Linked DNA regions of Homo sapiens. The protein of the gene in region 1 interacts with the protein of each later gene in a pairwise test. Each region holds a gene or a part of one and is shown in the gene's direction. Other genes may lie near its edges.

Region 1 (3,656 bases):
ACTTGCCTAAAGGCACTCAATATGGACGGCAAAGTCCCTGACCAAACCTGTCCTTGGCCCCTTTCCTAAAGTGCATTCCATATCATCACTGGCTTCTTGTTTTGCAGGCTTAAAACCTGGGAGTTCTCACCGGAAGACAAAAAAGCCTCTTCCCCCAACGCCTGAGGAGGACCAGGTATACAGGGAAACTGGGTGCTGCCACTGCTTAAATGGAAACTTATAGTCAAGCCCTAAGAACACACTAGAGTCTTAGAATTACCCTGGGACTTGGCAGTGTTAATTGGTATTCTTGCTAAGATGGGGGATTTGTTCTTCTAATTAGGATTTCCTCCTCGATGGAAAGATAGAAGGCTCTCAGCAACCATGTAATCCAATCACCTGTTTAGAACAAAACCTGATTTTTTTAATGTAAAGTTTTTGTTGTTGTTTTGTTTTTGCTTTTGTTTTTGTTTTGAGACGGAGTCTCGCTCTGTCGCCCAGGTTCGAGTGTAATGGCATGATCTCGGCTCACTGCAACCTCCGCCTCCCAGATTCAAGTGATTCTCCTGTCTCAGCCTCCTGAGTAGCTGGGATTACAGGCATGCACCACCACGCCCAGCTAATTTTTGTATTTTTAGTAGAGATGGGGGTGTCACCATGTTGTTCAGGCTGGTCTCGAACCCGCCTCGGCCTCCTAAAGTGCTGGGATTACAGGCGTGAGCCACCGTGCCCAGCTGGAAAGTATTTTCAAACATACAGTAAAGTTAGAAGAATTTAACACTTAATACCAACATACTCAACACTTAGCACTAACACCACCTATCACTAACACTTCAGAAGTTTTTTTTTTTTTTTTGGTTCCTTCTTGAGGGCTAGAAAGCCCTTTCTCACATATTGTAAGTAAGTAGAGCAGGTATTATTATACTCATTTTACAAAGAAGGAAACCAAGGTTCTGAGCCACTTAGTAGATTCACGTACAAGTTTAGTGCCAAGCCGGTTTCCTGACCTTAGCTATAAATGGTTTTTGTCTAGTGAGCTTTAAAAATAGTAATGTTTGGGTCCCATTCCTGAGAGTTTGATTTTGATGTAATTGGTCTGTGAGGAAACTGACTAGGTATTGGAATTGGTTTTTTGTTTTTTGTGGGTTTTTTTTTGAGACAGTCTCACTCTGTCACCCAGGCTGGAGTGCAGTGGCGTGGTCTTGGCTCACTACAACCTCCGCCTCCTGGGGTCAAGTTATTCTCCTGCCTCAGCCTCCTGAGTAGCTGGGGCTATATGCACACACTACCATGCCCAGCTGATTTTTGCATTTTTAGTAGAGATGGGGTTTCGTCACGTTGGCCAGGCTGGTCTCGAACTCCTGGCCTCAACTGATCCGCCCGCCTTGGCCTCCGAAAGTACATTGGAATTTAAAAGTTCCATACATGGTCTTTATATGTGTGCAAGGCTGAGAACTCCTGCACTGGTGCTTAAAAATGGTTGTTGAATGACTGCTGAGTAATATTTTAGTATGCCTGATTTGGGTGTCTTGAGTAAGCCAGAGAGTTGGGAGAGAAGAGAAGAGTGCTTGGTATCTTGACAAACCCTCCTACCTTTTCTCCTAACTACATAGATCTTGAAAAAGCCACTACCGCCTGAGCCAGCAGCAGCACCAGTCTCCACAAGTGAGCTGAAAAAGGTTGTGGCCCTTTATGATTACATGCCAATGAATGCAAATGATCTACAGCTGCGGAAGGGTGATGAATATTTTATCTTGGAGGAAAGCAACTTACCATGGTGGAGAGCACGAGATAAAAATGGGTGAGTCCACACCAGCCCTTCCTGAGCCTGGTGCCTGCCCACTCCCTACACGCAAAAAGTGCTGCGGCATAATTCCCGTGATCAGCATCCTCATCAGAGACTGTTCTTCCCACACCAGACTGAACATGCTCTCCCTCCAAGTACTTCCCAGCGTGCAGCTCCCTATACATGGCCTCTGCCACATCTCTGAGCCTCTGTTGTTGGGCACATATAACCAATGCAACATGTGCATAAGCTCTGCACCTCACTGGCTCACTGCCTAACCATGCATCAGAGACATGATTGTCTTTGAGGGAGGTGCATGATACATATACCTCCATTTGAGATTTGTTCTGAGCTCAGGGACGTGGGCATATGAATCTGTCTCCTGGAGGCTGGGGAGGTGCTGGATGAACTGCCACATTGTTTCCTTCACAGGCAGGAAGGCTACATTCCTAGTAACTATGTCACTGAAGCAGAAGACTCCATAGAAATGTATGAGTAAGTATGTTTATGTCAGTCCACAATCTTCCAGGAGGAACTCTCTCTCTCTATATATATATATATTTATTTATTTATATATATTTTATATATATTTATATATATATATAACACACACAAGTGTATATATGTATACATATGTATACATACACTGGTGTATATATAGGTATATTATGTATACATACACAAGTGTGTATATATATATATACACTTTTTTCTACTTTCAACATATTTTTTATTTCAAGATATATATTAAAATTAGTACCATCTGAATCAAATGATGCCACCACCTCAAATTAGTGTATCTGTCTTACCTTTACCCCCCAAACACCCTCCATTTATGAGAGCTGGAGAGGTCACCATGCCCTCAAATCCAGAAGAATCACACTCAAAGAAAAAGGAGTTGACGACCTGATGAAAGAATTAAAATGTCAAACTGCTACTGTTGTCCTTTCCTCCCTAATCATGGAAGTGGATTGTTCTCAAGTGCCCTAGTCCCTGATCTCTTCCCTGCAACTCCCTGCTGCTTGCCTTTGCCTGCTACTCTCCATTTCCATGAATCTTCAATGCCAACCTGGGTTTGGGAAAGGGATACAGTGTGCTATGCACATGACAGATGCTCAGTAAATAGGGTTTGAGTGAGTTGACTGAATCACTGACATGGACAAGCCCTGGAGGGTGCTGTAACCTCCAATCTGCTTATGACCAGGAGCCACTCAAGCAGCACTCTCCCTTCACAGGTGGTATTCCAAACACATGACTCGGAGTCAGGCTGAGCAACTGCTAAAGCAAGAGGTAAGTGTGGAACCACTAGCACACAGCATTCTCCTTGCATAAGTGAGGATCTTGAACTGAGGGCCTGTTCTGCCCCCTACCTTTGGGCAAGGCAGTGTCAAAGCTGCCATCGTCTGGGATCCCAATTACACCATTTTTTTTGTTTTTGTTTTTCTGAGACGGACTCTCGGTCTGTCACCCAGGCTGGAGTGCAGTGGCGTGATCTGGGCTCACTGCAACCTCCGCCTTCTGGGTTCAAGTAATTCTCCTACCTCAGCCTCCCAAGTAGCTGGGATTACAGGCACATGCCACCACGCCCGACTAATTTTTGTATTTTTAGCAGAGACGGGGTTTCACCATGTTGGCCAGGCTGGTCTCGAACTCCTGACCTCAGGTGATCCGCCCACCTCGGCCTCCCAAAATGCTGGGATTACAGGCATGAGCCACCATGCCCGGCCTGCACCTTTTAATATTAAAAGCAATGAGGCTGTAGCTCAAGCGTGGAACTTGGCAGTAAAATCAGGGGTTGTTCTATTTTCTCTCTCAAGTTTGGGCAGGTGGGATGCAGGTGTGAGCACCACTTCCTCCTACAGACAGCTTCTTTTTCGTTGTTTCAGGGGAA
Region 2 (4,218 bases), on another chromosome or scaffold:
GCACTTGGGGAGGCTGAGGCAGGCAGATCACTTGAGGTCAGGAGTTTGAGACCATCCTGGCCAACATGGCAAAACCTCATCTCTACTAAAAATACAAAAATTAGTCGGGCATGGTGGCGCGCCCCTGTGATCCCAGCTACTTGGGAGGCTGAGGTAGGAGAACTGCTTCAACCTGGGAGGTGGAGGTTCCAGTGAGCCAGGATCGCACTACTGTACTCTAGCCTGGGCGACAGAGCAAGACTCTGTCTCAAAAAAATAAAATAAAATAAAATAAAATAAAATAAAATAAATTTAAATTAAATTTGTTTAGAGACAGAGTTTCACTCTGTTGCCCAGGCTGGAGTGCAGTGGTATGATCATGGCTCACTACAGCCAGCCTCGAACTCCTGGGCTCAAGTGATCCTCCTGCCTCAGCCTCCCAAGTAGCTAGGACTACAGGTGTGCACCACCATATCAGGCTAATGTTTAAAATTTTTTGTAGCGATGGGGTCTTGCTATGTTGCCCAGGCTGGTCTCAAACTCCTAGCCTCAAGCAATCCTCCTGTCAGCCTCTCAAGTTGCTGGGATTACAGGCATGAGCAACTGTGCCTGCTGTGGCTGTACTTTTTTTTTTTTTTTTTTTGAGATGGAGTCTTGCTCTGTCACCCAGGCTGGAGTGCAGTGGAGCAATCTCGGCTCACTGTAAGCTCCACCTCCCAGGTTCATGCCATTCTCCTGGCTCAGCCTCCTGAGTAGCTGGAACTACAGGCGTCCACCACCATGCCCGGCTAATTTTTTTGTATTTTTAGTAGAGACGGGGTTTCACCTTGTTAGCCAGGATGGTCTCCAACTCCTGACCTCGTGATCTACCCGCCTCGGCCTCCCAAAATGCTGGGATTACAGGCGTGAGCCACTGCACCCGGCTGGCTGTAATTCTTTAAATAAATGTGCTTTTTAGCACTGTGCTGCTTGACTAGGATAATCTTTTAGAATATCCGAGATTCAGTCCTGTTTGTGCGTAGAATGTAGATGTGCCTCTTTTGAGTGGCAGTGGTCTCCTTGCCCGAGCTGGGCTGGCCCAAGTGGTCCGTGTGTCTGGGGGACAGAGGTTGGGAGAGGGAGACTTGGAGCAGGCTCAGACTAGATATTCTGCTGGGCTGGAGATCAGGGCTGGGGTTGGCTCTGGGGAGGGCCATCTCCACAGCTGCTTCCTTTCTTCCCAGTGACACTGTGGCACCCAGCTCGACGTTCTGCAAGGTCTACACACTGACCCCCTTCCTAGCCAATAACCGAGAGAAGCGGGGCCTCGCCTTGGACGGGAAGCTCAAGCACGAAGACACGAACTTGGCCTCTAGCACCCTGTGAGGACCTGCCCTCCTAGCCCTGGGCTCCTAGTGCATCTTGCCTGATGGGGCCACACCCTCCTTGGTCCCCCCAGTTCAAAGACAAGGCTCAGGCTACCCTCTCCATAGCCTTGTCAGGGCCTGTCCTCAGGTGCTTGACTTGTCAGGGAAGCTGCCTCCTTACTCCCAACCCTACCCAGGGGTGACTGAGAGAATAAGATGGACCACTAGGCCAGCTCACTCAGGCAGTGCTGGGCTCTGCTACCATGCCTGGGGGAGGGCAACCTGGGAAGGCTTCCTGCAAGAGGTGGCAGCTTCTGACGTAATGCCTTCAGTCAGATGGGGTGTCCCTGAGGAGAGACCAGGGTGGTGAGCTGGGTTAGACCCAACATGGGGTGCCCCTCCAAGTCAGGGGTCCCAGGGCATCTGGTCACTCCTGCTGCACAGTCATCGTGGACGCCTCTAGGCTACTCTGCTCCAGCAGAGCCCTGGCTATGGGGATGCCATCTTGCCCTCTTGCCAGTGTGGTCCTTCAGTGGGGCTTTGGCCTACGTCTAGAGCAGCCGCCACTCCCAGCACAGACTCAGCTCTCTTCAGCAGCCCCTGCACAGCCTCCCACTTACCTGAAGCTTTTTGCCCTGTCTCCACCCTGGCTCACACCCTACCCATCTTCAAGACCCAGCTGAAGCACCACCTCTGCGGAGAAGTCCTTCTCTGATGGCCCCCACCCCACCCCACCCCAGCTGCCTCGCCCTCTGTGAACTCCCCGTGTGGCCCTTTCTGCCCATGGGTTGCTGAGAGAAGCAGAATCCATCTGAGGGGAGGAGGAGCCTGGCCCTCATGGCGGGGACGCTGGCCTGGGCAGGGAGAGGGGCTCAGCAGGGCCACACAGTGAGCGAGTCTCACAGTCAGACTTGGAACCGGGGCTCTGGGTCCCTGCTACCTAAGGGCACTGCTCGCCTTCCTCATCTCCACTGGGCTCTATTGGACATGGTAGCTGAGTGGCTAGCCAGATGGGGGATGGACGGCCACTGCCCCCCAGCATACCCACCCCTGAGGTGTCTCGCCCACCTGGCAAGGCCCCTGAACTGGCTCCCCTGTGTCACTTTGCAGGTTGAGGGAAGGTGCCAACCGTGAGATCCTGGGGATCATTGTTTCCTACAAAGTGAAAGTGAAGCTGGTGGTGTCTCGGGGCGGGTGAGTGCTCCAGCCAAGCCCAAGACCCCGGAGTGCAGAGGGGAGCGTCCCAGGTGCCCACAGGCCCCTGCCCCATTCTGCCTGTTTGCAGCCCTTTTAGCTGCATCCACCTTGGAGGAGGAACCTCCTGTCCCTTCTTTTCCTCCCTTCTGTTCCTCTTTCTCCCCCGCCCGCTTTCCCTCTCTTCCTTCCTTGGCCCTCAGCCCCTCTCTTACCCCCACCCATCTCTTTCTCTCTCTCCTCCTCCTCTATCCTAGGTCTGGGCTCGCACTGAGGATTGGCCATGCCCAGGGGACGGCGTCCTCAGAGTCTTTGCTGTGGGGTCCCCAGGGGTGCCATCTCCTTATCACACTTTGGGCATAGCACCCACCCCCATGCATGCCCAAGCTGATTTTCTGAGGAAACAGCTAAAAGGGCTCAGAACCCAGAGCTGGATTGGGGATTTGCTAGTCAGCTTTCCCATTTTACAGATGGTGAAACAGAGGCCCAGACAGTGCCCCAAACATTGCCTGAAATCTCCTCTCCTAACTCAGGTCATAGTGGTGGACCAGACTGCCCTGCCCTGGAGCATAGTTTGGTGGAAGCTCAGGGAGAAAAACAAACAAACAAACTACTGTGTTTCTTTTTTGTAACTTAATTCATAAATTTCTATGAAAAGATTGAAAAGCTAAATCCCATTAGACATTGGGTCTCCTTGATTATTAGAAGAATGCCTCTTGGCAGGTGGCAGTATGTAATCCTGACCTTATATAATAGGACATCTCAAAATTACAAATCCCAAATCCTGTGTCTGGTGACCTTTCAGGACCCACAGTCCCTCAAACATTCTTGGCAACCCCGGAGTCCTTCCCTCTGCCTTTAGATAGTCCGGCCTCCCTTGGGACAGGCAGCACTGGGGTTAATTTTTACACTGCCTTGACAGATGAGGATCCTGGGGCTCAGGGGTTTGCTGAGCTGGGTCTGGATCCCAGTCCCTCGGGGCAGGGCTAATGCCATTTCGGTGTATCCCTGAAAGAGCAGTCAGGGCTGTGCAGGGGGGTGGGTGGGAGTGTGTCCCGTGGGTCTTCTCTATCCGGGGGACAGCAGAAGTGGTGAATGAATGTGCTTTTTGTTTTCTTCCTCTCTGAACTCTCTCCTGACCACTTCTCCTGCCTCCTCTGACCCACCCAGCCTGTTGGGAGATCTTGCATCCAGGTAAATTCCTCCCTTCCACCTGGTTCACCCACCTTCCTGGAGGGCCTGGAGCCCATTGGCTTGACTGACCAGAATCACAGGGCACTGGGTTGGAAGGAATCTTAGTGGTCATTTCAGATAGCCAGGTTCAGGTGTGAGCTGGGAGACACAATTTCTCCTTAACAAACCTCACCTTGCTCTTCCATCCCACCTGAGTGACAGGGATCTTTACAGAGAGCAAAGCCTGATTACACTGATACAGGGAGTGGCCCCCAAGAGAGCTGTCTGAATTACTGATCACCTGAATTATAGGAGCTTTTGGAGAAATGCAGACTTCATGGCTTTCAAACTTCTACACTAGTGAGGAGGGAACTGCTGGCCAAGTGTTGCTAAGGAGAGGTCCTCAGGAGATCCTATTTTGTAAACAAGGTCTCCTTGCAGCCAGCTGGATGCACTTATATTCCAAAAATGCATGTACCCCAAACACAGCAGTTTGGCCTCCTTCTGTCACAAGATGGCAGTGTGG
Region 3 (4,581 bases), on another chromosome or scaffold:
GAGGCCTCTAGGGAGGGAAGGAAGAAGTGGCAGATTTCATGGGACTAAGCTGTTTGATGGGTATCTTCTCCCACAGTGATTACCCAAAGAAGGAGGACTACATCGTCTACCTGGGTCGCTCAAGGCTTAACTCCAACACGCAAGGGGAGATGAAGTTTGAGGTGGAAAACCTCATCCTACACAAGGACTACAGCGCTGACACGCTTGCTCACCACAACGACATTGGTGAGGGGGAACCCCGCGACTACTGTGGCCATAATGGCTTGGGGAGAGTGGGACCCAGGGAGAGACTGGAGCTGAGGTTGAAGCTGCCCGGTGGGGCAGGGGTGGGGCGAGGGACCTTGAAGCCTCGATATACATGACAAAGGGAGTGGCAGGGAAGAGTTCCATGAAGTCTGAGGGGCCTGGTGCTCCTCTGGAGAGACCCTGAATTTCCCCAACAAGTAGCCTCTTGCGAGTGGAAACAGCCCTGTGGGTATATGGCTTGGGCTGGGAAGGCCCTGTTTATATGAATTAGAAAAAGACACACCTTCCTTTGTGGGATGCAGCCTCTGTCTGTGCTAGGATATAGAACTTGGAGAATGGAGCCTTGGGATGGATTCCAGCCTAACTACCTCAGCTGGGAGTTTTTGCAGAAACGACCTGTACAGCTGTATGCAGTGGCTCTGGCCATCCAAGCCTTTTTCAACACCTGGAACAAAGCCCTTGGGGCATGGGGCAGGGGAGGTTTCCAGGTGATAAGCGACCAGCAGACCTCCCTGGATGACTGACCTAGGGATAGGCATAGCTACTTCCTCGGCACTTGGAGGGGACAGATGGGGACCGCCTAACCAGTAGTGATCTTTCTCCTCTGACCCTCTGTCCTCCCCCAGCCTTGCTGAAGATCCGTTCCAAGGAGGGCAGGTGTGCGCAGCCATCCCGGACTATACAGACCATCTGCCTGCCCTCGATGTATAACGATCCCCAGTTTGGCACAAGCTGTGAGATCACTGGCTTTGGAAAAGAGAATTCTAGTAAGTGACAATTGCGACTGACTTAGAAGGTCCTGAGGAGTGTTTTGACCTGAAAATGAGCCCAGCGTGATCAAGGGAAGACTGCAGAGTTAGAGGTGGGAGCACTGAGGCGGTGGCAGATGGGTCCAGGGATGGATGAAGAGTGTTGTTTAGGGAGCGATGGGCTGCAAAGGTAAATAGATGGTAGGGGCTATAGGTGGAGTAAAGGCTCAGATTTGCATGGAAGAGAATAAGGGCCTTCCCTGGTAGAGATACTTTATGGTTCCCCTCTCTGGCAGACTCCCAGTGGACAGATAAATCTTGATGCAAACGCCTCCCTGTTTTCTCCACCTAGCCGACTATCTCTATCCGGAGCAGCTGAAAATGACTGTTGTGAAGCTGATTTCCCACCGGGAGTGTCAGCAGCCCCACTACTACGGCTCTGAAGTCACCACCAAAATGCTGTGTGCTGCTGACCCACAGTGGAAAACAGATTCCTGCCAGGTGAGTGTTCCAAGCATCTCTCTCCACCTCTTCCATATCTCCCCAGAGCTCCTGGGCTTGTTCCAGCCAGCTTAAGGGTGTCTCTCTCTAGCCAAAGCCCTAAGTAGCCAGAATCAGGAGCTCAGGTCTTTGAGGGTTTAAACCAGTCCTTATGTGTTTGCCAGACATTACCAAAAAAATCCCAGCTCTGCGCTAGTCACTTCAGACTGGGGGCACGAGATCCTAGAAAGAGGAAACAGTAAAAGACAATGTAACTCAGTGCCCAGGGTGTGTTGTGAACTATAAATGATCAGGTGTTCAGGAGAGGGAGGTGAGTGCCAACCTGAGGGTCAGGGAGGGGAGGCTTTAAAGGAAATGTGACTTGATAGGCATTTGAAGAGGCAGAGGGAAGAAAGGAAGGTGTTTCAGTTGAAAGATACAAAACTGAGAAGGAGGCTGGCATATTCCGGGTGGGGAGGAGAACTAGGGTCTGGGAGTGTGGATGGAATAGTGGCAGATGACAGGGCTTTTAAAGCCAAGCAGGGGATTTTAAACTTGATGTGGTAGAAAATGGGGCTGCGTCAGGCACAGTGGCTCATGCCTGTAATCCCAGCACTTTGGGAGGCCGAGGTGGATGGATCACTTGAGGCCAGGAGTTTGAGACCGGCCTGGCCAACATGGTGAAACCCTGTGTCTACTAAAAATGCAAAAAAAAATTAGCCAGGTGTGGTGGTGCCTGCCTGTAATCCCAGCTAATCAGGAGGCTGAGACATGGGAATCGCTTGAGCACAGGAGGCAAGTTTGCAGTGAGCTGAGATCACGTCATTGCACGCCAGCCTGGGCGACAGAGCGAGATTCTGTCCTCCCCCCGAAAAAAAGAAAGAAAATGGGAAGTCGCTAAGGACTTTGACTGGGAAACTCTTCCCTCTCTCTGGTATGGTTGGGTGATGGGATCAGAAATCCCCTCCTCACTTCTCTAGGGCTCATCTTTTGTATCTTTGGCGTCACAGGGAGACTCAGGGGGACCCCTCGTCTGTTCCCTCCAAGGCCGCATGACTTTGACTGGAATTGTGAGCTGGGGCCGTGGATGTGCCCTGAAGGACAAGCCAGGCGTCTACACGAGAGTCTCACACTTCTTACCCTGGATCCGCAGTCACACCAAGGAAGAGAATGGCCTGGCCCTCTGAGGGTCCCCAGGGAGGAAACGGGCACCACCCGCTTTCTTGCTGGTTGTCATTTTTGCAGTAGAGTCATCTCCATCAGCTGTAAGAAGAGACTGGGAAGATAGGCTCTGCACAGATGGATTTGCCTGTGCCACCCACCAGGGCGAACGACAATAGCTTTACCCTCAGGCATAGGCCTGGGTGCTGGCTGCCCAGACCCCTCTGGCCAGGATGGAGGGGTGGTCCTGACTCAACATGTTACTGACCAGCAACTTGTCTTTTTCTGGACTGAAGCCTGCAGGAGTTAAAAAGGGCAGGGCATCTCCTGTGCATGGGTGAAGGGAGAGCCAGCTCCCCCGACGGTGGGCATTTGTGAGGCCCATGGTTGAGAAATGAATAATTTCCCAATTAGGAAGTGTAACAGCTGAGGTCTCTTGAGGGAGCTTAGCCAATGTGGGAGCAGCGGTTTGGGGAGCAGAGACACTAACGACTTCAGGGCAGGGCTCTGATATTCCATGAATGTATCAGGAAATATATATGTGTGTGTATGTTTGCACACTTGTGTGTGGGCTGTGAGTGTAAGTGTGAGTAAGAGCTGGTGTCTGATTGTTAAGTCTAAATATTTCCTTAAACTGTGTGGACTGTGATGCCACACAGAGTGGTCTTTCTGGAGAGGTTATAGGTCACTCCTGGGGCCTCTTGGGTCCCCCACGTGACAGTGCCTGGGAATGTATTATTCTGCAGCATGACCTGTGACCAGCACTGTCTCAGTTTCACTTTCACATAGATGTCCCTTTCTTGGCCAGTTATCCCTTCCTTTTAGCCTAGTTCATCCAATCCTCACTGGGTGGGGTGAGGACCACTCCTGTACACTGAATATTTATATTTCACTATTTTTATTTATATTTTTGTAATTTTAAATAAAAGTGATCAATAAAATGTGATTTTTCTGATGACAAATCTCCCTGGTGCTTGTATGGGAAGGAGTTGGAGTACATAAAAAGGAGAAAATAACAAAGGTGGACTGCACCCTAGAGTTTCTTATGGGACTGCATCTCTGGACTTAATGGAGCTTTGGGAGGTAGAGGTTAGGAGAGCTGTAGGGCAGGGCCACCACAGCACTTAATGTATACAAAGTTTCCCCAAACCACAATCCCATGGCTGTGTAAGTAGTGTACAGGCTTAGTGTCAGCTCCCAATTGCCTCCTTAACCTGATGCCTTTGTGCAGTGCACATCTTGTACAGCTGTACATGGTGGTCTTCTTTAGGGTTAACTCCACAACAGTCTCTTCACTCTGCCCCCAACAATCCTTGAGCTGACCTCAACCAAGAAGAACACCTGTGGCCAGGTGTAGTGGCTCATGCCTGTAATCCTAACATTTTGAGAGGCTGAGGTGGGAGAATCGCTTGAGCCCAGGAGTTTGAGACCAGCCTGGGAAACTTAGTGAGACCCTGTCTCTGCAAAAAATAAAAAAATTAGCCAGGTGTGGTAGCACATGTCTGTAGTCCTAGCTACTTGGGAGGCTGAGGCAGGAGGATCCTAAGCCAAGGAGTTCAAGTTTACAGTCAGCTGATTGTGCCACTGCACTCCAGCCTAGGTGACAGAGCAAGACCCTGTCTCAAAAAAAAAAAAAAAAAAAAAAGAAGAAGAAGACCTGTAAGTGAAAATTGCTGGCCAGGCTCAGTGGCTCACGCCTGTAATCCAGCACTTTGGGAAGCCGAGGTGTGTGGATCACCTGAGGTCAGGAGTTTGAGACCAGCCTGACCAACATAGTGAAACCCCATCTCTACTAAAAATACAAAAAAATTAGCCGGGTGTGGGGGTGGGTGCCTGTAATCCCAGCTACTCGGGAGGCTGAGGCAGGAGAATCATTTGAACCCGGGAGGCAGAGGTTGCAGTGAGCCGAGATCGCACCACTGCACTCCAGCCTGGGCGACAGAGG
Region 4 (4,218 bases), on another chromosome or scaffold:
CCTCAGTTGTCCTCAACCATGAAATGGGACCGCCCTGGTGCCCCCTTCTCTGACACCTGTTGGTGCCCACCTTAACCTCCTGAACTCGATTCATCCCTCCTTGAGTGCCATGGGTTGGGGGGGTACTGTTACCCACACTGTTTTGCAGGTAGGGAACCTGAGGTCCAGAGAAGTTGTGGCTTGGGCGTTGCTGTTGAGTTGTGTGATGGGGGGAGGGTTAGCCCAGGGCCCGTATACAACAGGCGCTCAATCTCCAGTCTGGCCTGAGATGGGAGGATACCTAGATACCTGGAGGCCAGGCTGGGCCGCTCCAACAGGGACTCAGGCAGCGACTGGAACTTAGAACCCACCTGACTGGGGCCCGGAGCCCGCTGGCCAATCACAGGCCAGGAACGCCCATTCCCCCACCCTGCTTGTGAAGCAATAATCCAAGATCTCCTGGGGCAGACAGTCTGGCCACAGCGTGTTTCTCTGTGGCCCCGTGCGGGGCGACCTTGCTACCCAGGCCCACAGTAGGCTGTATGCGAAGAGCCTGCGCCTCTGCCTCCAAGAAGGCCTCCAGGTCTGCATCCTGCATGAGATGGACATGAGAGCTGATCCCCAGGGCCTTCATGGGGAAGGAAGGAGGGGGCTTGAGGAGCTCAGGCCTGCTCTGACTGTGCCTTTTTTCCCCCTCAGGTTTCTGCAAATGCGTGAATGAGCCGGATGCCAGCCTCTGTCCCCTGGAGCCCAGCGTGAGGAAGAGGCATGCCCCATCAGCCTTCAGCTTGAGCCCGGCGGCCCCCGCCCCCGCCCCCTGCCACCCTGCACTGCCCCGGCTCCCCCGCGGCCCCCACGCTGCAGTGCGGCCGGGCCCCCTCCCCGCAGGGGCCGCCCCCGCCGCCCACCCCTAGCGCCCGTGGTGGTGGTGGTGGTGGTGGTGGTGGTGGCCCGGGCCGCAGGGCCATGAAACTACAGGCCGTGATGGAGACGCTGTTGCAGCGGCAGCAGCGGGCGCGCCAGGAGCTGGAGGCCCGGCAGCAGCTGCCCCCCGATCCCCCTGCTGCACCCCCCGGCCGGGCCCGGGCTGCCCCCGACGAGGACAGAGAGCCCGAGAGTGCCCGGATGCAGCGGGCTCAGATGGCCGCACTGGCAGCCATGCGGGCTGCAGCTGCGGGCCTGGGACACCCAGCCAGCCCCGGCGGCTCTGAGGATGGGCCCCCAGGCTCGGAGGAGGAGGACGCGGCCCGGGAGGGGACACCGGGCTCACCCGGGCGAGGCAGAGAAGGGCCAGGAGAGGAGCACTTTGAGGACATGGCCTCCGACGAGGACATGTGAGTTGGGGTCTGGGGCAGGGCCTTCTGGGGGCTGTTACTGGCTCTGAGTGTCACTCTGCTCATCTGCAGAATGGGAGTAAGGGTCAGGTCGCGGGATCTCCTTCCTGTAATTCCAGCAGTTTGAGAGGCCGACGTGGGAGGATCACGTGGGCCCAGGGGTTGGAGACCAGCCTGGGCAACATAGCAAGACCCCATCTCCGCAAAAAATTAAAAAATTAGCCAGGCATGGTGGTGCACCTGTGGTCCCAGCTACTGGGGAGGCTGAGGCAGGAGGATCCCTTGAGAACAGAAGTTGAGTTGTGATTGTGCCACTGCACTCCAGCCTGGATGACAGAGATAGACCCAGTCTCAAAAGAAAAATGGTTTTTTTAGCCGGGTGCTGTGGCTTACGCCCGTAATCCCAGCACTTTGGGAGGTCGAGGTGGGTGGATCACCTGAGGTCAGGAGCTCAAGACCAGCCCGGCCAACATGGCGAAACCCCATCTCTACTAAAAATACAAAAATTAGCCAGGCGTGGTGGCAGAAGCCTGTAAACCCAGCTACTCGGGAGGCTGAGGCAGGAGAATGGCTTGAACCTGGGAGGTGAAGATTGCAGTGAGCCAAGAATGTGGGTTTTTTTTTTTTTTTTAGACAGAGTCTTGCTCTTTTCGCCCAGGCTGGAGTGCAGTGGCGTGATCTCAGCTCACTGCAACCTCCTCCTCCCGGGTTCACACCATTCTCCTGCCTCAGCCTCCCGAGTAGTTGGGACTACAGGCGCCCGCCACCACGCCTGGCTAACTTTTTGTATTTTTAGTAGAGACGGGGTTTCACCATGTTAGCCAAGATGGTCTCGATCTCCTGACCTCATGATCTGCCTGCCTTGGCCTCCCAAAGTGCTGGGATTACAGGCGTGAGCCACCACACCCGGCCAACTTTGTTTCATCTTAGTTAACTTAAAGCAACCTAGCCACCGATGGCTACAGCAGATTCAGCGGCAGGGGCAGATAAAATCTGCAGCCGGCTGGACCTGCATAGCGTGTGGGTCCCCCCAGGGCTGGCTGAGGGCTCACTTGCTGTGGGATCCTGGCCTCCAGGAACCCGCATCTTCCTGGGAGGACCTGAGCAAGCAAAGATGCTGGGCGCAGTGGCTCACGCCTGTAATCCCAGCACTTTGGGAGGCCGAGGTGGGAGGATTGCTTGAGCCCAGGAGTTCAAGACCAGCCTGGGCAACCTAGTGAGGCCCCATTTCTACAAAAAGTACAAAAATTAGTCGGGTGTTGTGGCATGCATCTGTGGTCCCAGCTACTCGAGAGGCCGAGGCGGAAGGACTGCTTGAGCTCAGGAGGTCAAGACTGCACTGAGCTGTGATCACACCACTGCACTCCAGCCTGGGCAACAGAGAAGACCCTGTCTCAAAAAACAAAACTGGCCGGGTGCAGTGGCTCATGCCTGTAATCCCAGCTACTCAGGAGGCTGAGGAGGAGAATCGCTTGAACCTGGGAGGCAGAGGTTGCAGTGAGCCGAGATCGTGCCTTTGCACTCCAGCCTGGGCAACAAAGTGAGACTGTGTCTCAAAAAAAAAAAAAAAACAACCAAACAAAACCTAGCAGCAAAGAAGCAGGTGATATCAGGTTGTACAAACAGCTGCCAATGGCTGGGCGTGGTGGCTCACGCCTGTAATCCCAGCACTTTGGGAGGCCGAGGTGGGCGGATCACGAGGTCAGGAGATCGAGACCATCCTGGCTCACACGGTGAAACCCCGTCTCCACTAAAAATACAAAAAAATTAGCCAGGCGTGGTGGCGGGCGCCTGTAGTCCCAGCTACTTGGGAGGCTGAGGCAGGAGAATGGCATGAACCCGGGAGGCGGAGCTTGCAGTGAGCCGAGATTGCGCCGTTGCACTCCAGCCTGGACGACAGAGCGAGACTCCCTCTCAAAAAAAAGACAAAAAAAAAAAAACGGCTGCCAAGAAAGTCTAGGAGGGTGCCGTGGAGGGGCAGTGGCGAGGGTGGGGCGGATTTCAGATGGCGGTGGGAGAATTCTCCCTGTGGAGGGAAGGGGAGGTGGAGCTGGGACAGCATGCATGGTGCAGGATGCAGGAACCAGCCTGCCGTAATGATTCCCTTTTTTTTTTTCCCAAGAGAGTCTTGCTCTGTGGCCCAGGCTGGAGTGCAGTGGTGCCATCATAGCTCACTACAGCCTCCATCTCCTGGGCTCAAGGGATCCTCCCGCCTTGGCCTCCCAGAGTGCTGCCGGGATTATAGGTGTGCGCCACCGTGGCTGCCTGCGTGATGCTTTTCAAGGCCCCAAAATTCACGCTGTAGGGACGGCTTGTGCTGTTCTGGGCTAATTGGAAACAAAGTGGGCGTCACGGGTGCCCCACGCTGTGCTCATGAGCGCTCTCTGCAGTCTGAGCTGGCGGCGGCCGGCTCTTCCTATTTCCAGAGAGGGAAACTGAGGCTGGGCGGGGAGTGGGTCTTTCCTTGGGCTGGGACGAGCCAGCACCTTCTCCCCTGACTCCTGCCCTCTGCTCACCCCAGGAAGCCCAAATGGGAGGAGGAGGAGATGGAGGAAGACCTCGGGGAGGATGAGGAGGAGGAGGAGGAGGATTACGAGGATGAGGAGGAGGAGGAGGACGAGGAGGGGCTGGGCCCCCCAGGCCCTGCCAGCTTGGGCACCACGGCACTGTTCCCCCGAAAGGCCCAGCCACCCCAGGCCTTCCGCGGCGATGGCGTTCCCAGGGTGCTGGGGGGCCAGGAGCGGCCGGGGCCTGGCCCTGCCCACCCCGGAGGGGCCGCCCACGTAGCCCCGCAGCTGCAGCCGCCTGACCACGGCGACTGGACTTACGAGGAGCAGTTTAAGCAGGTGAGTGGGCGCGTCCCGCGTGGCGGCTGAGGCACCTGCTCCTGGGCCAGTGGGGCCCT
Region 5 (4,328 bases), on another chromosome or scaffold:
AAATCAGCCCATACTTGGAAAAAGGGCATCATTTCTCATAGAAACAATATTCCTAATGATGATGATTTCCAGGCTAGCCCATTTCACCAGCATATGTAGTGTAATAAAAATCAGAGGGCAGAAATATACCTTCATACCCCATAATTGGGGGCTGGTGTTGATGGGGATGCTCAAGTGACTTGTCTTTATGTACGTTATCTCCTGTGAATGAATTTTCCACTTATAAAGTTTCTTGAGTTTAATCATTCTGAAATTGCTTTATTATTAAAACAGTATGTTCTTACAAAAAATTAGAGCAACGCAGAAATGTTTGAAAATTAAAGTTTATTAGGATATATTAATGTATGATATTATAGTATTACTCATCACATGTAAGCTTTACATCTGAAGCAATTCATGCTTACTGGGAGGGAAGTTTGAGTACTTACTTAGCTTTTCCTGCTATTCCTAGGTAAAGGCCCTCCTGTGGTCATTCTGAACAGAAGAGTGAGCTTACTGCAAACCACAGGCTGGACAGTAGAGGGTGCATATCCTCACTGAGTGGAGCTCAGAAAAGAATTAGGATTCTGCACACATTTATTCCAGACTCAGTTCCCACTGTTGGTTTTTATATTGAGATTATTTTAAAATCTTTTCGAAATATAATTTATTTGCTCTTTAAGTATGGGTGGGGTGTTAAGCTAAATTTAAATTGTTCTGTGAGGCACAGGCATTATACTTAAGCATGAACCTAATGAAGCCCTGAACATACCAACAGGTAGCAGTCCAGTTAAGCTCTTTATAAGGCCACATGCCTAAGCTCCAAAGGGAATCTTAATTTTTTATTGGGGAGACATTTCGTTACTACATTTAGTGGACTTTGTTAGATTATAACAAGCACAATAGATTTGTGATGAACATTTTTTATTTTTTTCCCCCTGAAAAGCTTTATGATACAACAGCTCTGTTTTCCTGAGAGATGGCCTTTAGGGTAGATGAGCCTCAGTATAAGCCCAGAGCATTTCTCTAAGGCTACCAAGGCTTGAGGAATTCTGTACTTACTCCCACTGTCACCCTGCTCTTCATCCCCCAGCTCAGGTAAGGGGAACGCAGGGAAGGCTGAAGAGTGCTAGCTGCGGAAGCACTGAATTAGGGTGTCCTCAGCCCTCCATTCCCAACTGGAAGCCAGTAGTTCACTTAGTGTATATAGCAGAGCCTCAAAAGCACAAGCATTTTGAGTGTCGTTTTTCTGTGCCCTCCAGCGATGAGATGGCAAATGGTGGGAAAGTGTCAGCTGTGTGAAAAGATAGTGATTGTTTGGTTTTGCTAGGACAGTTTTAATGTTGATAAAAATTGTTTATACATTTCTGAGAAGTACAGACCAGAAGAACTGAATTCTTGTTCTGTCTTCTTCATAGGTAGTTGTGTGATGCTGAAGTTAAGACAGATTGCTGATGTAGAACCCGATTTTCCTTTTTGTCTGATGTGTGTGTATAATTTCAAATTTGCTTCACTAGGATGCTATTTTACTAATGCGTTCCTGTGAATCCTTTCCTTGGAATCTTAGGGGGCCTCTTGTAGAGGCATTTGTCTGTTAGCAAATGTCACTTAGAGGCAAGTGACTTTGAGATCCCTGTGACCACCACCCTCCTGCTTATGTGGGATGAAGCTGTGTTTCTGTCCTCTGAGTTGGATTAGACTATTACATGCTGGTGAAGTAAGCTGGCCTGGAAATTGTCTACCATTAGGAATGCTGTTTCTGTGAGAAATGGTGCTCTTTTTCCAAAAAGAATATAGCCACATTTGGAATATATTCACTTTCATAAATTGGACACTTCCTGCAGTGACTCCTGCCCTAGCTGCCTCACGGAGTTGGTGTGAGGCCTAAATTAGTCAATTTTCCTGAAAATGCTTTTGAAACTGTAAAACTGAAGGTCCTTCCCCAATCCCTCCAGCCTGAGGAAAGTCTGAAATGTAATTTAGTTTGAAGTTGGCACACACTTTTATAGGACTGTGAATCAAATGAAGAAAACCCCTAGATAACATTAAACCCTTTCATTCTCAGAATCGATGATGCAACCAACTTGGTCCAGCTGTATCACGTGCTCCATCCAGATGGCCAGTCGGCTCAAGGGGCCAAGGATCAGGCTGCTGAGGGAATAAATTTAATCAAGGTAAAGTTTTTTTTTCATATTGGTTGTTTTGTGGTGGTAATTGAGCTGGGAAAAATTCAGAATTGGGTCATAATTAATGGTAACTAAACAGATTTGTGAATATGGGACATCTGTGGTCTTGAAAACATCAGTATGATTTGTCCCCATATTTCTTCAGCCTGGACAATAGAAACAGACAGGGGAGGGGGGTAAAGTGCAGTAAAGTAGGTTGAGTGATGTGGTGCTAGCAGCTGGAGTCCAGAGAAGTTCTGACAGTGCAGGGAGCAGCCCCTTTGTTCTTTGGAGCACTGGAAGGGCTGAGCTGCATCTGAGGTGTTCAAGCCACCAACAGGACAGGGTAGAGGACTAAGTAGCACATGTCCCCCAGAGCAGCTTCCTGTCTTTGTGTGGTCACATCACATCGGGGGAAATGGGCATGTGTCAAGAAGTGGAGAGTGTGATGCTTGTATATCATCAAGCCTTAGCTGTATTGTCATTTTGGAGCTGCATACCTCTCAAAACCATGGGCTTATGTACATTTATCTGTAAGTGCTGAGAGTTGAGATGATATTTTCAGGAAGGGAAGGGGAGGAGATTGTATAATTAATTTCATCTCTTCTAATGCTCAGAATATACATGGTTTTGTGGAACTGGCTTCTATCCTAGTAATACTGTTTGCATGCTGCAAAGCTAAGGAAACAATGACCTGTGATGACATCCTAGGAAGAGTAGAGAGAAACTACAGTACTGATTTTCTTTATGAACCTGATAAAGCGCAATGTTTTTGGAGAAAATATTCTTTAAAGTCAAAAGTTAGTTTGGTAACTCTTAGCCTCCAGATTTCTCTCTAACCTAATGGTTTTTGTTTTGATCTCGAAGGAAGTATTAATATTAATACAATGTCAGGGTCTTAATTGGATACTTCTGGTGTTTAGAATTAGTATTGCTTGAAATGTGTTGGGTATTGTTTTTCTGTCCATGTGTGTTTATTAATTATTGTATAATCGGGGGAAAAATTGTGAAATCTGAAAGCCCTTTTTAAGTAGGACTCTTTGCTACTACAGAAATGCTAATGATGTCTTAAAACTGAAAAACTTTATAAATAGCATATGTCCTATTGTTTTAAAATTTTCTTTTTAATTTAAACAGGTCTTTGCAAAAACAGAAGCACAGAAGGGAGCCTATATAGAACTAACACTGCAGACTTATCAAGAAGCACTCAGTCGCCATTCTGCAGCTTCCTAAAAATATTTTAAAAATACATTTATTTTACTAAATACTGACTACATTTCTCTGTTAATATTGAGCTAAATGTTAAAAAATGGCCAGATTAAAAGATATCAATTTGTAGTTCTCCCTACAAAGCAAAAATTATTACCCTACTCACTTTTCGTAGGCTACAAGGATATTTGAGTGCCTGGTTATGAATTTCTCAAATCATGTTAGATGAGCGTACGGTTAAAAAGTCTGGTGTGTTTTTGTGTTACCAAATAGGGCAAACGTTAACTTAGACAGACCCCCAGCTTAATGAGGTCAGAGGAACAGAGGTTTCACATCCTGACTCCAGAAATGGGTAGCTGCTAGACAAAATCGGGGCAAGACCTGTGGAATGATGCAATGAGGTCAAGAAAAAGGGTTTAGAGAATTACAGCCTGGATATTCAGCTCTAAGAAAAATGTGATTGACAACATTTGAAAATGCAGATTTAGTTATACAAAGAAAAGACAGTGGGGCTGATCCCTAGGCAAGGTGTAGTTTCGGCTCAGCCTTCTAAAACTAGAAGCCTATTTTCATTATTGAGAAAGGAAACAAGTACCTTCATTAATTCAAAAGGTTTTATGAGATATGGTCTAATAGTATGAAAAAAATCAAAGCCCATGTCTGTTTTAGTTAACAAGGAAAACACAGTGATTTAAATGCTGCACATAAACTCTTCTTAAGATGATGTGGGCATTGTGCTCCCAGTGGTCCACAGCATTTACATATAAAAATCTAAGAAGTTTCTCATAGTCCAAAGCACTGTGGTCAGGGTAGCAATCAATACCTATATATAATAATGATCTGTTTAGTCAGGTAAATGGAAAGCATTACAGTCAATCATCCAAAATATCTTCATCCAGATTGATATCTGTTGTGTCAATATCTTCTAATTCCAAATTATCCAAATCTACTTCTAGTTCGAGTAAACTCTGCAGA
Region 6 (4,218 bases), on another chromosome or scaffold:
AGCCTCCAGGAGATTTAGTTGGATGCTTGCAGTGGCAGTAATGGACCAAGTGGGAGGGCAGGTTCTTGGGCCCCTGCACAATTTGTGTGGCATTAACTGTAGCAGTAGGAAAAGTGGACCAACCCTCTGGCCCCCAAGTGGTAGACACAGGCAGCAGCAGGCTGGGCAAGCCAGTCCTCAGGACCCCGTGTGGCATGCATGTGCCACACCCTGTGTGGCACTGCCCTGCCATGGCAGTGGCAGGCAGGCACTAGCAGCAAAGGGCATGGTGGACCTGTCCTCAGGCCCCTTGGAGGCATGTGTAGATGTGTCGTAGTCCTGCTGCTAGGGAAGATGGGGTTGCTGTAAGTGGCGGTGGCCCTGGGCAGGTAACTCTGAGGCTCTGGGGAATGCACACTTTGACTCCCTTTGTCCCAGGGAAAGCCACTAGGTGCACTGTGCTTCCTGTTTCCTGGGATGCGGGGCATTGCATGGGCTAGAGTGCTGGGGACCTAGCTGCACTGCTGATCTTAGCTGGCATTACAATGCTGTAGCCCTCTAGGTGGACGTAGGAGAATATCAGTGGGGCTTCAGGGGTGTGGAGATTCAGGGTTGTTGGGCCCCAGAACAGGATGTGTATGGTGAGGGCTGGGCTCTTAAAAGAGCCTTATGCTGAAGCTGTTTGGGTCTCAGGGTATGGGGTATGTGGGACCCAATGTGAAGTCCCATTGTGGAACAATGTGATTGCATATATTCCAGACAGCCCCAGGGCATGTGAAGGCCAAGGAGCTAGCTCATGGCTAGGATTACAGGAGTCCATAGTGGAAACATTGACCTCTGAAGATCTCTCAGTTAAACTTTCCCTGGAATGGGAAGTTCCTCCTGGTTCTGAGCTAGTCCCAGCTGGGCTGGCTGCTTCACTTCCCTCTTCTCCCATGCCTCAGAGGTGCACTGTCACTTCTCCGCTGAATTCCAGTGTTCTCTCTTAGATGCTCATTCAATGTGTGATTATCTGCTCACTGTTTTGGTCCTTCTTTGCAGAGGGGGTGAGGGCTAGGTGCCTCTATTCAGCCATTTTAATGCTTCTCCGGCTCATTTTTTAATTGTTCAATAGTATTTTATTGTGTGAATGTACCAGTTTGTTAATATTTTTATCTATTGAGGGATATCTTGTTGCTTCCAATGTTTGACAGTTATGAATAAAGCTTCTATAAACATCCACATGGAGGCTTTTATGTGGACATAAATTTTCAGTTCTTTTGGTTAAATACCCAGGAATGTGATTTGCTGGATTGTGTGATAAGACTATGCTTAGTTTTATAAGAAACTGCATTCCATAGTGGCTGCACCATTTTGCATTCCCACAAACAGTGAAAGAGAGTTCTTGTTGCTCCACATCCTCACCAACATTTGATGTTGTTTTTGGATTTTACCCATTCTCATAAGTGTAATGTAATTTCATTGCTGTATTAATCTGCAAAACCATGATGAAATATGATGTCAAATAGCTATGTATATGTGTATTTGCTCTTTACATATCTTCTTTGGTGAGGTGTCTGTTTAGATTTTTGTGCCCATTTAAAAACTAGGTTGTTTGTTTTCTTATTGTGGAGCTTAAGAGTTCTTTGCATAGTTTGGATACAAGTCCCTATCATATATGGGTTTTGCAAATATCTTCTCTGAGTCTGTGGTTTGTCTTTTTCACTCTCTTGCAGTGTCTTTTGCAAAGCAAAAATTTTAATTTTAATGAAGTCCAACTTAACAGTGTTTTCTTTCTTGGATTATGTTTTTGATGCGTATCTCAAAAGTCATCACCAAATCCAAAGTCACCTAGATTTTCTCCTATGTTATCTTCTGGAAATTTTATAGTTTTGCATTATACATTTAGGTCTATGGTTAATTTTGAGCTGATTTTTGTGAAAACTGTAAGGTCTGCGTCTAAATTCTTTCTCTTCTTCTTCTTTTTTTTTTTTTGCATGTGGAGGTCTAATTGTTCCAGCACCATTTGTTGAAAAGACTATCCATTCTCCACTGAGTTGCCTTTGCTCGTTTGTCAAACAGCAGTTGATTATTTTTTTGTGGGTCTATTTCTAAGCTCTGTATTCTGGTCATTTGACCTATTTGTCTATTCTTTCACCAAAACCACACTGCCTTGATTGCTGTAGCTTTGTAGCAAGTCTCAATGTTAGGTGGTGTCAGTTATCTGGCTTTGTTCTTTTAATTTCTTTTTTTTTTTTTTCCTGTGAATGAACAATACTTTCTGTTTCTTTGCATGGCTAATTTTTTTAAACAAATAAATTAGAGATTCCTTTAATGCCAAGTTACACAATCAAAAAGATAACAATCTCTTTCCATTTGCTTTTTGCAAGGTTTGTGTTATTTCAGGGCAAAACGTAGAGCAAGTCCACTGGCAAATCTGGGGGCTAGTGATTATTTTGTTTTGATTTTTATTTTTTTAAATCAGACATTTTAAACACTACAATGAGGTAACTCTAGAAATCAAATTCTGTCCCCCTTTCCCAGAGGTGTTTTATTTATTTATTTATTTATTTTTTGACAGGGTCTCATTCTGTCACCCAGGCTGGAGTGCAGTGGTGTAATCACAGCTCATTGGAGCCTCGACTTCCTCGGCCCCAAACAATCCTCCCACTCAGCCTCCCAAGTAGCTGGGACTATAGGCACACGCCACCATGCCCAGCTAAGTTTTGTATTTTTTGTAGAGATGGAGTTTCACTATGTTGCGCAGGCTGGCTTTGAACTCCTGGACTCAAGCAATCCACCTGCCTTGCCCTCCCCAAGTTCTGGGACTATAGGCTTAAGCCACTGTGCCGGGCCTCCCTTTCCCAGGGTGTATTGTTGCTTCTTGTGGCTTATAGTTGCTTGTTTAATGACTTTTCTAAATAATTTTTATAAAGATTATTCTTTGTCATGTGTGGCTATTACATTTTCTGTCCAGTTAGCTTAGTGGTCAGCCAGTAACTTGAGATTTCTTTAAACATCTGGAGCAAAAACAAAAACCAAATAAACTAGCAAAAGCAAAAACAAAAACACCCCTGATCTTTGCAGGTTGGCTGTGTTGGATCACTTTCTCAATGCTTAGCCAGTCTATTCACAGCTCTGCTTTAGCCTTCACTTTCTGCATGCATGGAAGCTAAAGATGAGCCAGAGGTGAAGTTTAGGATTTTCTCAGGTCTCCTCTGAACATGCGTCCAGCCTTGGGCACGTGAGTGGACTTCTGGACTCCCTGGTATATACAGAGATTTCCTCAGCCTTTTTTCTCCCACATATCTTTCTCCATATATCTTTGCATATTTCCCAGACTTTTTGATGTGTCTGCTGCTTGCCCCCTCTGTTAGCCCTTGCTCAGGTGGCTGCAGCTAGTATGTTTGCCTTTAATTGTTTACAGCAAACACCAGCCAGAAGGCTGTTCCAGCCCTGAGAAAGTTCTAAGGTGTACAAAACAAAGGCAAGCCCCTGAGTGTGAATCCCTCAGGCAGCAACCAGACAGGTCAAAACACACAACCACAATTCTTTGATAACAAGGCCTATATTGCCCCTTCTGGCATGAGCAAGCTATATAACTGGTTATAAAAAGTATTACATTAAATTATGGGGACAGAAATGACTCTACTAGTGAATGAAGAAATCATTTAGATTTTATGGTTAGTAAGTGGAGGTTTGAGAGTAACCATCCGATCTTTATTAATCTTAGTGTATATTATATTTCTAGAATTTGGACTCATATCAAGATGCTCTGAAGAAGAACAACCCTTTAGGATAGCCACTGCAACATCATGACCAAAGACAAAGAACCTATTGTTAAAAGCTTCCATTTTGTTTGCCTTATGATCATAATAGTTGGAACCAGAATCCAGTTCTCCGACGGAAATGAATTTGCAGTAGACAAGTCAAAAAGAGGTCTTATTCATGTTCCAAAAGACCTACCGCTGAAAACCAAAGTCTTAGATATGTCTCAGAACTACATCGCTGAGCTTCAGGTCTCTGACATGAGCTTTCTATCAGAGTTGACAGTTTTGAGACTTTCCCATAACAGAATCCAGCTACTTGATTTAAGTGTTTTCAAGTTCAACCAGGATTTAGAATATTTGGATTTATCTCATAATCAGTTGCAAAAGATATCCTGCCATCCTATTGTGAGTTTCAGGCATTTAGATCTCTCATTCAATGATTTCAAGGCCCTGCCCATCTGTAAGGAATTTGGCAACTTATCACAACTGA
Region 7 (4,218 bases), on another chromosome or scaffold:
TCAAGGACCAGAGGCAGCTCTTGGTGGAAGTTGAACGAATGGAATGTGCAACACCTTCAGATAAGCAGGGCATGCCTGTGCTGAGTTTGAATATCACCTGTCAGATGAATAAGACCATCATTGGTGTGTCGGTCCTCAGTGTGCTTGTAGTATCTGTTGTAGCAGTTCTGGTCTATAAGTTCTATTTTCACCTGATGCTTCTTGCTGGCTGCATAAAGTATGGTAGAGGTGAAAACATCTATGATGCCTTTGTTATCTACTCAAGCCAGGATGAGGACTGGGTAAGGAATGAGCTAGTAAAGAATTTAGAAGAAGGGGTGCCTCCATTTCAGCTCTGCCTTCACTACAGAGACTTTATTCCCGGTGTGGCCATTGCTGCCAACATCATCCATGAAGGTTTCCATAAAAGCCGAAAGGTGATTGTTGTGGTGTCCCAGCACTTCATCCAGAGCCGCTGGTGTATCTTTGAATATGAGATTGCTCAGACCTGGCAGTTTCTGAGCAGTCGTGCTGGTATCATCTTCATTGTCCTGCAGAAGGTGGAGAAGACCCTGCTCAGGCAGCAGGTGGAGCTGTACCGCCTTCTCAGCAGGAACACTTACCTGGAGTGGGAGGACAGTGTCCTGGGGCGGCACATCTTCTGGAGACGACTCAGAAAAGCCCTGCTGGATGGTAAATCATGGAATCCAGAAGGAACAGTGGGTACAGGATGCAATTGGCAGGAAGCAACATCTATCTGAAGAGGAAAAATAAAAACCTCCTGAGGCATTTCTTGCCCAGCTGGGTCCAACACTTGTTCAGTTAATAAGTATTAAATGCTGCCACATGTCAGGCCTTATGCTAAGGGTGAGTAATTCCATGGTGCACTAGATATGCAGGGCTGCTAATCTCAAGGAGCTTCCAGTGCAGAGGGAATAAATGCTAGACTAAAATACAGAGTCTTCCAGGTGGGCATTTCAACCAACTCAGTCAAGGAACCCATGACAAAGAAAGTCATTTCAACTCTTACCTCATCAAGTTGAATAAAGACAGAGAAAACAGAAAGAGACATTGTTCTTTTCCTGAGTCTTTTGAATGGAAATTGTATTATGTTATAGCCATCATAAAACCATTTTGGTAGTTTTGACTGAACTGGGTGTTCACTTTTTCCTTTTTGATTGAATACAATTTAAATTCTACTTGATGACTGCAGTCGTCAAGGGGCTCCTGATGCAAGATGCCCCTTCCATTTTAAGTCTGTCTCCTTACAGAGGTTAAAGTCTAGTGGCTAATTCCTAAGGAAACCTGATTAACACATGCTCACAACCATCCTGGTCATTCTCGAGCATGTTCTATTTTTTAACTAATCACCCCTGATATATTTTTATTTTTATATATCCAGTTTTCATTTTTTTACGTCTTGCCTATAAGCTAATATCATAAATAAGGTTGTTTAAGACGTGCTTCAAATATCCATATTAACCACTATTTTTCAAGGAAGTATGGAAAAGTACACTCTGTCACTTTGTCACTCGATGTCATTCCAAAGTTATTGCCTACTAAGTAATGACTGTCATGAAAGCAGCATTGAAATAATTTGTTTAAAGGGGGCACTCTTTTAAACGGGAAGAAAATTTCCGCTTCCTGGTCTTATCATGGACAATTTGGGCTAGAGGCAGGAAGGAAGTGGGATGACCTCAGGAGGTCACCTTTTCTTGATTCCAGAAACATATGGGCTGATAAACCCGGGGTGACCTCATGAAATGAGTTGCAGCAGAAGTTTATTTTTTTCAGAACAAGTGATGTTTGATGGACCTCTGAATCTCTTTAGGGAGACACAGATGGCTGGGATCCCTCCCCTGTACCCTTCTCACTGCCAGGAGAACTACGTGTGAAGGTATTCAAGGCAGGGAGTATACATTGCTGTTTCCTGTTGGGCAATGCTCCTTGACCACATTTTGGGAAGAGTGGATGTTATCATTGAGAAAACAATGTGTCTGGAATTAATGGGGTTCTTATAAAGAAGGTTCCCAGAAAAGAATGTTCATCCAGCCTCCTCAGAAACAGAACATTCAAGAAAAGGACAATCAGGATGTCATCAGGGAAATGAAAATAAAAACCACAATGAGATATCACCTTATACCAGGTAGAATGGCTACTATAAAAAAATGAAGTGTCATCAAGGATATAGAGAAATTGGAACCCTTCTTCACTGCTGGAGGGAATGGAAAATGGTGTAGCCGTTATGAAAAACAGTACGGAGGTTTCTCAAAAATTAAAAATAGAACTGCTATATGATCCAGCAATCTCACTTCTGTATATATACCCAAAATAATTGAAATCAGAATTTCAAGAAAATATTTACACTCCCATGTTCATTGTGGCACTCTTCACAATCACTGTTTCCAAAGTTATGGAAACAACCCAAATTTCCATTGAAAAATAAATGGACAAAGAAAATGTGCATATACGTACAATGGGATATTATTCAGCCTAAAAAAAGGGGGAATCCTGTTATTTATGACAACATGAATAAACCCGGAGGCCATTATGCTATGTAAAATGAGCAAGTAACAGAAAGACAAATACTGCCTGATTTCATTTATATGAGGTTCTAAAATAGTCAAACTCATAGAAGCAGAGAATAGAACAGTGGTTCCTAGGGAAAAGGAGGAAGGGAGAAATGAGGAAATAGGGAGTTGTCTAATTGGTATAAAATTATAGTATGCAAGATGAATTAGCTCTAAAGATCAGCTGTATAGCAGAGTTCGTATAATGAACAATACTGTATTATGCACTTAACATTTTGTTAAGAGGGTACCTCTCATGTTAAGTGTTCTTACCATATACATATACACAAGGAAGCTTTTGGAGGTGATGGATATATTTATTACCTTGATTGTGGTGATGGTTTGACAGGTATGTGACTATGTCTAAACTCATCAAATTGTATACATTAAATATATGCAGTTTTATAATATCAATTATGTCTGAATGAAGCTATAAAAAAGAAAAGACAACAAAATTCAGTTGTCAAAACTGGAAATATGACCACAGTCAGAAGTGTTTGTTACTGAGTGTTTCAGAGTGTGTTTGGTTTGAGCAGGTCTAGGGTGATTGAACATCCCTGGGTGTGTTTCCATGTCTCATGTACTAGTGAAAGTAGATGTGTGCATTTGTGCACATATCCCTATGTATCCCTATCAGGGCTGTGTGTATTTGAAAGTGTGTGTGTCCGCATGATCATATCTGTATAGAAGAGAGTGTGATTATATTTCTTGAAGAATACATCCATTTGAAATGGATGTCTATGGCTGTTTGAGATGAGTTCTCTACTCTTGTGCTTGTACAGTAGTCTCCCCTTATCCCTTATGCTTGGTGGATACGTTCTTAGACCCCAAGTGGATCTCTGAGACCGCAGATGGTACCAAACCTCATATATGCAATATTTTTTCCTATACATAAATACCTAAGATAAAGTTCATCTTCTGAATTAGGCACAGTAAGAGATTAACAATAACTAACAATAAAATTGAATAGTTATAATAATATATTGTAATAAAAGTTATGTGAATGTGATCTCTTTCTTTCTCTCTCTCAAAATATCTTACTGTACTGTACTCACCTATTTTCAGACCATAACTGACCATGAAACCTGGGAAAGTGAAACTGTGGATAAGTGAGGAACTAACATACATACATGATTGTTTATCTACAGATGTATGCCTCAGTTTCTTAGTATGCTTGAAAATGTATGATTTTGTGTATATCCGTGCTACATGTAAGTGTGGTTCTATTCATATTTGAATATGAATTCTGCATAAGTGTGTTTATTCAAGCAAATGTACAAGGCTCTGAGAAGGAAGATCAACATACAACTTGGAATATTTCAAGGCCGAAATATTCAAGGCTGACATTGGCCTCCTTCCTATCAGTTCCCTCTCCCAGATGGAAATTCTAGAAATGGCAGGTGAGGTGGACAAGCAGGGAAAGAAATTATATGCATAGAACAGAAGGAGAAGAAAGAGTAAAGTCAGGCCTCAGCCAGCCTCTTTTTAGCTCTTTAAATCCTCTGGATTTAAGAGGGATAAAGGGTGGAATAAGGATAAATTAATGCCAATTGTAATGCCTTAAATTTGTGTGATACCTTACAACTTGAAACATATTCACAAAACTATATATTTGAATATCTCATTAGCTGAGTAAGGTAGCAAATCATAATTAACTTTTTCCATTTTA

The links.
Region 2: the proteins of BTK (region 1) and ARRB1 interact in a two-hybrid assay, tested with the Homo sapiens proteins (one large-scale study listed by BioGRID and IntAct).
Region 3: the proteins of BTK (region 1) and PLAU interact in a two-hybrid assay, tested with the Homo sapiens proteins (one large-scale study listed by BioGRID and IntAct).
Region 4: the proteins of BTK (region 1) and ARID3A interact in binary tests that used the Homo sapiens proteins (3 or more experiments, as listed by UniProt).
Region 5: the proteins of BTK (region 1) and MRPS22 interact in a two-hybrid assay, tested with the Homo sapiens proteins (one large-scale study listed by BioGRID and IntAct).
Region 6: the proteins of BTK (region 1) and TLR6 interact in a two-hybrid assay, tested with the Homo sapiens proteins (one study listed by BioGRID).
Region 7: the proteins of BTK (region 1) and TLR4 interact in a two-hybrid assay, tested with the Homo sapiens proteins (one study listed by BioGRID).

The regions. Positions count from the first base shown.
Region 1 is NC_000023.11:101,358,692-101,362,347, reverse strand, and holds part of BTK (tyrosine-protein kinase BTK), read left to right. Parts: intron 1-107; coding exon 108-175; intron 176-1,592; coding exon 1,593-1,780; intron 1,781-2,197; coding exon 2,198-2,260; intron 2,261-3,000; coding exon 3,001-3,055; intron 3,056-3,651; coding exon 3,652-3,656. UniProt on the Homo sapiens protein: Non-receptor tyrosine kinase indispensable for B lymphocyte development, differentiation and signaling. Binding of antigen to the B-cell antigen receptor (BCR) triggers signaling that ultimately leads to B-cell activation.
Region 2 is NC_000011.10:75,271,196-75,275,413, reverse strand, and holds part of ARRB1 (beta-arrestin-1), read left to right. Parts: intron 1-1,202; coding exon 1,203-1,340; intron 1,341-2,435; coding exon 2,436-2,519; intron 2,520-3,689; coding exon 3,690-3,713; intron 3,714-4,218. UniProt on the Homo sapiens protein: Functions in regulating agonist-mediated G-protein coupled receptor (GPCR) signaling by mediating both receptor desensitization and resensitization processes.
Region 3 is NC_000010.11:73,913,904-73,918,484, forward strand, and holds the end of PLAU (urokinase-type plasminogen activator isoform 1 preproprotein), read left to right. Parts: intron 1-76; coding exon 77-225; intron 226-872; coding exon 873-1,013; intron 1,014-1,347; coding exon 1,348-1,496; intron 1,497-1,667; exon of another isoform or gene 1,668-1,718; intron 1,719-2,485; coding exon 2,486-2,662; 3' UTR 2,663-3,591; downstream 3,592-4,581. UniProt on the Homo sapiens protein: Specifically cleaves the zymogen plasminogen to form the active enzyme plasmin.
Region 4 is NC_000019.10:928,584-932,801, forward strand, and holds part of ARID3A (AT-rich interactive domain-containing protein 3A), read left to right. Parts: intron 1-430; exon of another isoform or gene 431-562; intron 563-678; 5' UTR 679-945; coding exon 946-1,313; intron 1,314-3,834; coding exon 3,835-4,159; intron 4,160-4,218. UniProt on the Homo sapiens protein: Transcription factor which may be involved in the control of cell cycle progression by the RB1/E2F1 pathway and in B-cell differentiation.
Region 5 is NC_000003.12:139,353,638-139,357,965, forward strand, and holds the end of MRPS22 (small ribosomal subunit protein mS22), read left to right. Parts: intron 1-2,044; coding exon 2,045-2,153; intron 2,154-3,281; coding exon 3,282-3,377; 3' UTR 3,378-3,492; downstream 3,493-4,328. Other genes in the region: COPB2 (coatomer subunit beta'), read right to left, coding at 4,226-4,321.
Region 6 is NC_000004.12:38,829,029-38,833,246, reverse strand, and holds part of TLR6 (toll-like receptor 6 precursor), read left to right. Parts: intron 1-3,709; 5' UTR 3,710-3,773; coding exon 3,774-4,218. UniProt on the Homo sapiens protein: Participates in the innate immune response to Gram-positive bacteria and fungi. Specifically recognizes diacylated and, to a lesser extent, triacylated lipopeptides.
Region 7 is NC_000009.12:117,713,909-117,718,126, forward strand, and holds part of TLR4 (toll-like receptor 4 isoform A precursor), read left to right. Parts: coding exon 1-740; 3' UTR 741-4,218.